Homo sapiens: one gene and its partner. The protein of the gene in region 2 interacts with the protein of the main gene of each other region in a pairwise test. Each region holds a gene or a part of one and is shown on either strand. Other genes may lie near its edges.

Region 1 (3,824 bases), on a different chromosome or scaffold from region 2:
AATAATAAAGTAACTGAAAACAAAGCCTGGATGTGTCAAAATGCCACAGGCACTTTTAAAACCCGTAACAGCCCACATAAACAACTCAAATACAGGGCAATTAAAGATTTGCAAATACTCAATAAGCTTTTTTTTCCATATGCACCCATAATGTAAAAACATTATTTTCCTATCATTTTCCATTTTCTTGCTTTTCTTCTGACTCTAAAATTAGCTAAATTGCCCCATCTCCAAGTTACCTCAGACAGTTGTTTCCAACAACCTTCTGTAAAAAAAAGTTTAGTAAAGAGGGAAAGAAGCAAATATATTTCTATTTACCCATATAAGATTTAATGTAATATGTGAAGTACAGTATGTAAAATACCAAAATATTTTTGAATGGCATATCAAAACTATAAACTCTTCAATAAAATATTGATACCATATGATAAAAATGTTATTCTTCTGGAGTATGGTTTATAAACAGAACAGAATACTCTTTTAAACCATGGCAAATATCCATTTATAGGTAAAAGAAAACAAAAAAAGTACACTTCACTTTGAAAATTTAAATGCAAATTTTTAAAATATCATGGAAGATACATAAGAGAGGTGAGAGGGCACAGCCTAAAAGTGATTGATTGTTAATACTCTATTTGCTGTTTCTAGTGGGACAAAACAAAGCACTGTTTTTTAGTAAAATATAACATGACGATACATCAAACATAATTGTAGTCACCATTTATGGATTCCCTATTTGGGGCCTGGCTTTGTATTATGTACTTTCATTTATCCTCACCGAATCCTATCAAGTGGGATTATTTTCCTTGTTTCAAAGATGGAGATACTGAGGTTTATGGAGGTCATAGCACTTCTAAGCCAGTATTCCCATTCAGGTCTGTACACTCTATAATATTGTCTTGAAGAAAATCTTCTATTACGTGGTAAACACTCTAGCATGCTCTTCCAAGATAATTACAGTCATCTCTCAGTATCTGAGAGAGATTGGTTCCAGGACTCCAAGGATACCAAAATCCAGGGATATTCAAGTCCCCTATACAAAATGGTACAGTATTTGCACATATACGCAACCTCCCATATATTTTAAATTATCTCTAGATTACTTATAATACCTAATACAATGTAAACCAATGTAAACAGTTGTTACACTGTACTGTTTTTTAAATCTGCATTATTTTTTCATTACTATATTGTTATTTCTTATTTATTTTTTTAAATATTTTCACTCCATGGTTGATTGAATCCAAAAATGCAGAACCTGCAAATATGGGGGGCCAACTATACTTAAGATGGGAATAAATTTATCTTTTCTTTGCTTGAGGTTTCCTTAATCAGCTATTTCATCGTTTACTTCTGTAAAATCCATAACCATATTTAAATTTATTCCTTAGCATATCTACACTTATATCTATATATGTAGATATAAATTTATATAGATATAGATTTAAATTTAGATATATAGATATAATTTAGATATACTAAGGAATAAGAAAAGCACCATTATATATATAACTGAAAACTCAAAGTTGGAAAATCCAATCTTTCTCATGAGTGATTATTTCTGACTATAAATCATCATATAGATCCCTTGGGTATACCTACAGAACCCATGAGGGTTACTGAATTCCAATAACAAGCATTCTCAAATAAAAACCACTTCTAAATAGCCATTTAATAAGGATAATTAACATCTATTAGGAAAGCCATTAATACTGAAGCTGGCGTTTTTTAAAGAATAGCACATGGGCTGCTGTTGGTCCTTTCCAGGTAGCCCATGAACGAATCCCTAGAAACATTATCACCTAAATTTCTGGCTTGAACTAACACCCACTGGCAATTCACTCTCGCCATGTCTCATCACAAGCCATGTTGTTTTCTAAGTTTTGGTGAATTTCTGGCTCACATAAGTGGAAGTAGACCAGGATAGAGAATAAGAGTCTTTTATCTTCTTAAGATAAAAAAGTTCAGTTCCAAAAATATATGCAACATTGCCTGGCTCTATAATTTAATTATACAAATAAAAATGTTTTTCAAATAAAATAAAATGACTTGAAAATATTCTAGCATTTAAAAGAAATATTTGATACCTTCAAGTACAAGATTTTCCCAAATAGTAGAACTTCCCCCATATTAAGCTTACCTTGAAGATGGCATTATATTTGAAGCCCTGAATTTTGCTGTAAATGGATTGGTTGACTCATAATCAAAATAGTCCTGGCGATTTTCACTAAATGCATTAGGTGATTTCAAGTCACAAGGGCTATCAGATCCCCCATTGTTAAGTTTATCAGATCTTCTGCTATCTTTTTTTCCAGTCACTCTTTCAAACAGGCTAACTTTCTCCCTTTTCTCTCTTTTATTTTCTTTTCTTATTTCAATTGGTTTTGAAAATAAATTCATGCTGCTGTCCCATGTTTCGCTGCTTTCTTCAAATGGATTTTTCTTCCTTGGCAGTGTTGCAAATTTTTGGGGTAATGAAGCAGTCACATTTGTAAATGGGTCATTTTGTCTTCCGAAACACAATTCACCTTCATCCACAATGCTGTCAGGTTGGTTCATTTTAGAAGTATCAAAGCTTAATGTTCTTCTGTGTGGAGATTTGAGACTTCCTACAAACAATTTTGTAGTTAGTACATAATCAGTGACACATTACATCACACTATTTGACACAGTCTGTGTGCATTCTGCTGCTTTTAGAATGAGAGCAATTAGCCACTTAAATGTATTAACCTTCAAAAAATCAAGGAAACAATCTTAAAATGCTAAGGTGTAGCAGTCTGAAGCATCGAGGCTGATAACAACTAGCATATTGCTAGACCATTAGTAATGTATTCAGCTCACAATCATATAAACTATGATGTCAAAACTAGAGGTTCTGGTTGGCATGATAATGTTAAAAATTCTCAGAGACTTTTTCATTAGCATTAAATTTACTTTCTTACTTCTGAACATAAAAGTTTTCTTCTAAGGACTTTATGATGAAATGGAACATTCATTTATGCTCAGGGTTTTGAGATAGCAGAAACAGCAGTAAAACAGGCAGCCAAGCCATAAAAGGAAACTGGCACTCATTTTATTATCATCTAATAATATAAATACAAATGCAGACAAGCTCTGCCTTCAAGGAACTTACCAATTTGAGGTATAGTAGGTACTCAATATTTGATGAATGACAAAATTTGGAAAATACTACAAAGCAACTGCTATTTTGATTTACTAAATTTAGAAATTAAACTTTAAAAACTAAAAGGGTAGTTCAGACCAATGAGTACACAAGAATGTGACACTTACCACTTTCTGGAACTGTTCCAAAGGAATCTAACTGGTGTCCGAGAAGATGTGTTTGACCTATGGTGCCAGCCTTCAGTTTCTCAGAAGACATATGGGACCCAGATAAATCAGACATTGAATGCGCTGACGAGAGTCGCTGAGGACCCAAGAGAAAAGGCTTTTTTGGTTTGGATTTCATCTGTATTTCACCACTTGAAAATTCACTATTGGCATCGGGCATGTGAGTACTTGGAATGATTGCAGAAGACGTATCAGAAAATGTTCCATCATTTTTTCTACCCTTCATCTTATCTTTTAACTTTGCAAAAGGAGATCTGGTTTTGTCCTTCATTGATAAGTCAAACATACTTGCGGTCATATTGTTCCTCATAAACTGAATATTGACCTTTATCTCACCCCTGTTTTTGATTCGTTTTCCTTGTTTGGATTCTAATCTAAACCACCTTAAAGAGAAGAAAAAAAAATTGGCTGTAACACATAATAGAGAGAGGATACTGAGTTCTGTTACATACAAATAGCCTTTTAGGTAAAGT
Region 2 (3,824 bases):
GTGGCCTCCTCCATACTCAGGCTGCTCAGCCAGCTCTCGGGACACTGTCCCTTGTCTTAGAGACCCCAGCCCTCGCTACCTGCATCCTCTTCAGATTGGGGAAGTCCCCAGGTGAGATCTGGTGCTCCCGCTCGATCCGGCCATAGATCTCGGCCAGGTTGTTGACCAGCTCCTTCTTCTTGTTGTCCTTCCCGAACACCGAGGGCATCTCCTTCTTCAGAGAGCTGATGATGTAGGCGTGGACCTGACAAACAGGGCCAGAGAGAAGCCTTCACATCAAGACCCTGGACGGTCCCTTCCTTCTAGGATGGCTCTTGCATCATTCCTTCCCCTACATCCCTCCCGCCTCCTCCTGCTCCTACTTTTGAAATAATTTCTACCTCTACCCTCATGGCTCCATGTTGCTTGCAGGGCTGGGCTGTTTTTCTATGTTATGTGGGCAAGGTGAGGTTGTGGGGAGCTATGGTCAAGGCAGGGTGAGGTGGTCATGTTGCTGCTGCTGAAGGCAATACCAGCAGCTGACAGTTGCTGAGCATCTCTGAAGGTGCCAGACACTGTGATGAGGGCTTTGAGACTCTTTATTTCACTTTATCCTCCAACAACCCCTTCATTTTACAGATGCAAACAGAGGCACAGAGAGACTAAAGGCCTTGCCAAGGCTGGGAATCCCACAGACAGTAAACAATGGAGTCAGTTCCAATCTGGCCATCTGACCTGAGAGCTTGTAACCATGGCTCCCGCACTGTCCTGCCCCTTGGTGTCACACACATGATGCACTGGCTGTTGGAGGCAGCAACCCTCAGCTCGTGCAGCTGACCCCAAACTCTGGGCCCCTGCCCAAGCTGCCCACCTCCCAGGGGGCTGCCTCACCTTGGCCAGCCTGGCCCTTTTGATGAGGTCGTTGAGCTTGCGCAGGGCAGCATTTCGGGGCAGACTCTGGATGTCCCTGAATAGGTCCTGTTCCTCAGCCTCAAAGAGCTTCCGGTTGTCAGGGATGAGGAGGGGGTGGGACCAGAAGGAGCCGATGTAGACCCGGATCACCTCTGGGGTGTTCACGATCTTCCCCAAGGACCACATGAGGGCCCCGTACACCCGCATCAGCTGCTGCGTCTCGATCTGGTCAGCTTTGTTCAGCACCACTCGCATCTTGTCCTCGTGGTTCTTGAGGGCTTTGATGACTTCTGAGAACTCATCAGAGATGTCCAGTTTGTGGGCATCGAAGAGCAGAATGATGCGGTCAACCCGCTCGGCAAACCACTCAAGGACAGCTGCAAAGTCATACCCTGCCGGCAGAGGGACAATCAGGGGCTGGGGCCTTTGGGGTATAGGGTAGGGGTTTGGAGAAGCAGTCGGGTGTGGTAGAAATAACACAGTCTTGGGAGTCAGATCTAAGTTTAAATCCTGGCTCCTCCACATTTTAACTGTTTGGACTCCAGCAAATTACTCAATGTCTCATAGAATTTTTTTCGTCTAAAAATACTGTTAAATACTAAAATAATATGAATACCTAGTTAATAGAACTATGAAGATTAAATACTCTTAGAATCCGGCACTTAGTAGGTGCTCAGTAAATGCTAGTTACTTTTTTTTTTGAGACGGAGTCTTGCTCTCTCACCCAGGCTGGAGTGTAGTGGCACTGCCTCTGCTCACTGCAACCTCTGCCTCCTGGGGTCAAGTGATTTTCCTGCCTCAGCCTCCCGAGTAGCTGGGATTACAGGCATGCGCCACCATGCCCGTCTAATTTTTGTGTTTTTAGTAGAGACAGGTTTAACCATGTTAGCCAGGCTGAGTCTTGAACTCCTGACCTCAGGTGATGCGCCTGCCTTGGCCTCCCAAAGTGCTGGGATTATAGGTGTGAGCCACCGCCCCCAGCCAGCCACTGCGCCTGGCCTAGTAACTCTTATTAACGTCATTATTTCCATACCAGCTCCCCTATCCGTGCTTACTGTATTTAGCAGCCCGCTGGAAAAGAAAGTCTGGACACCTAATCTGACACAAAGACCCAGAAATTCTTTCTAAGGTCTGAAAACAATGAAACACTAAAAAGTAGATACTGATGATGGTTCAGACCATGCCTGTCACTGGTCTGGAAGAAATCTGCAATTCTTGTTATAAAAACATCTTGTTCTCACTCAGGCTCTTTCCTTTGTAATCAGCTGCAGCACAAAATTCCCAACTCTTGAAACCACAAGGGGTTTCTTCCTTAGGATGTGACTGGAACTCTGGCCACCCGCATCTTGGTTATCTAGCACTAAGCTGCTTTAGGTCAGACTGGTTACAGGAGCCCCAGAGAAGTTGTTCTGCTCAATCCCAAGTAGCTGTGGATCCAGTAGGAGCTGAAGTAGGAGGGTGGACCAATAGTCTATACATTCACTGACACCCAGAGCCCCAGTAGGTCTTACCTCTGTGTCTCAGGCTCCTCTTACATAAAATAGGAAGACAAGAGATAAGGAAGTGGGGCTCAGAGAAGTCAAGTGATTTGTCGAAGGGCACACAGCCCATGAGCAGCAGCAGTCGCATGAAGATGGAGGTGTTAGGCTTTCCCATTCTGAGTCTGAGCAGGGTTCTCAGCCTCTCCTCCTGCCACTCCCCCGTGGCATACCTCTGGCACCAAGGTAGGAGCCCTTTCTTGGGTACTAAAGTGACCAACCATCCTGGCTCCCCATAGCACAAGGGTTCCAAGGTGACACACACTGGGGACCCAAAGCTCATTGCCACCATCGAATGGGAAACCAAATCATTAGGAAAAAGCCTGCCCTGCCTCACAGAGGGAGGCTAGAGACCAGGCAAGATCATCAGGCAACTGCCTTGTGAGTGAGTCAGACTTAAGAAGCTCTGACTGTCTTTAACAGGGGTCCTGACTTAGCCTCCATCAGAATCCCCCCAGGGCTTCTTAAAACCCAGATGGTTGGACTCTATCCCCAAAGTTTCTGATTCAGTAGGTCTGGCGCAGAGCATTTCTAACAAGCTCCCAGGAGATTCTGATGCTGTTGGTCCAAGGGCCACACTTTGAATACCACTGGCCCATAAAAATAACAATAGCATTCAAAAGGTGTTCAGCACTGACCTAAGTACTTTATAATCATTCATTCCTTTAATCCTCACGATGACTCTGTGTAGGGTCATTAGACACTAATATCAGCCCCACTTCTCTGAGGAGTAACCAGAGATACAAACAGATAAAGGAACTTGTCTAAGGTCACCCAGCTGGTAAGCAATGGGCTGGGACTCAAGTCCAGGAAGGTAGCCCTGGAGTCAGTGCTATGAACCACTGCACCGAGTTGGCTTTCACTTTCAAAGGCTGTCATTTCAGACTAAGTAGCAGGCATCGATGGGGTGGGGGATGAGGATGAATGGAGCCAACGGAGCTAGGTTTAAAAAGCCTTTCCCCCACCCTGTGGCATCTAGTGAACACCCAGTGGGGTACATATTTAGGACGTGTGGAGGCACTGCCACAGGGGGTAGGGGGATGGGATCAGACGGTCGGGAAAACTTGCTGCCCTAAAGCTTCCTGGAGGACCCCTGTAATGTTTCCCTGGTGGCTGTAAGAGAATTCTAACAAACAAAGGAAGGTCAAACCCTCCTTTGGTTACCCGGATGCCAGTACTACTCCATTTTCAGCTCCTCTGTCTTTGGTAAATGAAGTGCTTCCAAGCATTCCCATTGCCATGTGATTTTCTCCAAGATCTGTCAGCTGCTCAATGAATATACAGCTCAACTAACACCTGAGCCTTCTCCCCCTGCTCCTGTGGCGTAGACCTATGAGGCTACGAGGAGCTTAGCCATCAATGGTCCAACTTCCTGATTTACAGATAGGGAAACTG

What was found.
Region 1: the proteins of EHD3 (region 2) and RAB11FIP2 interact in a two-hybrid assay, tested with the Homo sapiens proteins (one study listed by BioGRID).

The regions. Positions count from the first base shown.
Region 1 is NC_000010.11:118,036,832-118,040,655, forward strand, and holds part of RAB11FIP2 (rab11 family-interacting protein 2), read right to left. Parts: intron 3,735-3,824; coding exon 3,292-3,734; intron 2,610-3,291; coding exon 2,141-2,609; intron 1-2,140. UniProt on the Homo sapiens protein: A Rab11 effector binding preferentially phosphatidylinositol 3,4,5-trisphosphate (PtdInsP3) and phosphatidic acid (PA) and acting in the regulation of the transport of vesicles from the endosomal recycling compartment (ERC) to the plasma membrane.
Region 2 is NC_000002.12:31,257,969-31,261,792, reverse strand, and holds part of EHD3 (EH domain-containing protein 3), read right to left. Parts: intron 1,284-3,824; coding exon 871-1,283; intron 245-870; coding exon 80-244; intron 1-79. UniProt on the Homo sapiens protein: ATP- and membrane-binding protein that controls membrane reorganization/tubulation upon ATP hydrolysis. In vitro causes tubulation of endocytic membranes. Binding to phosphatidic acid induces its membrane tubulation activity.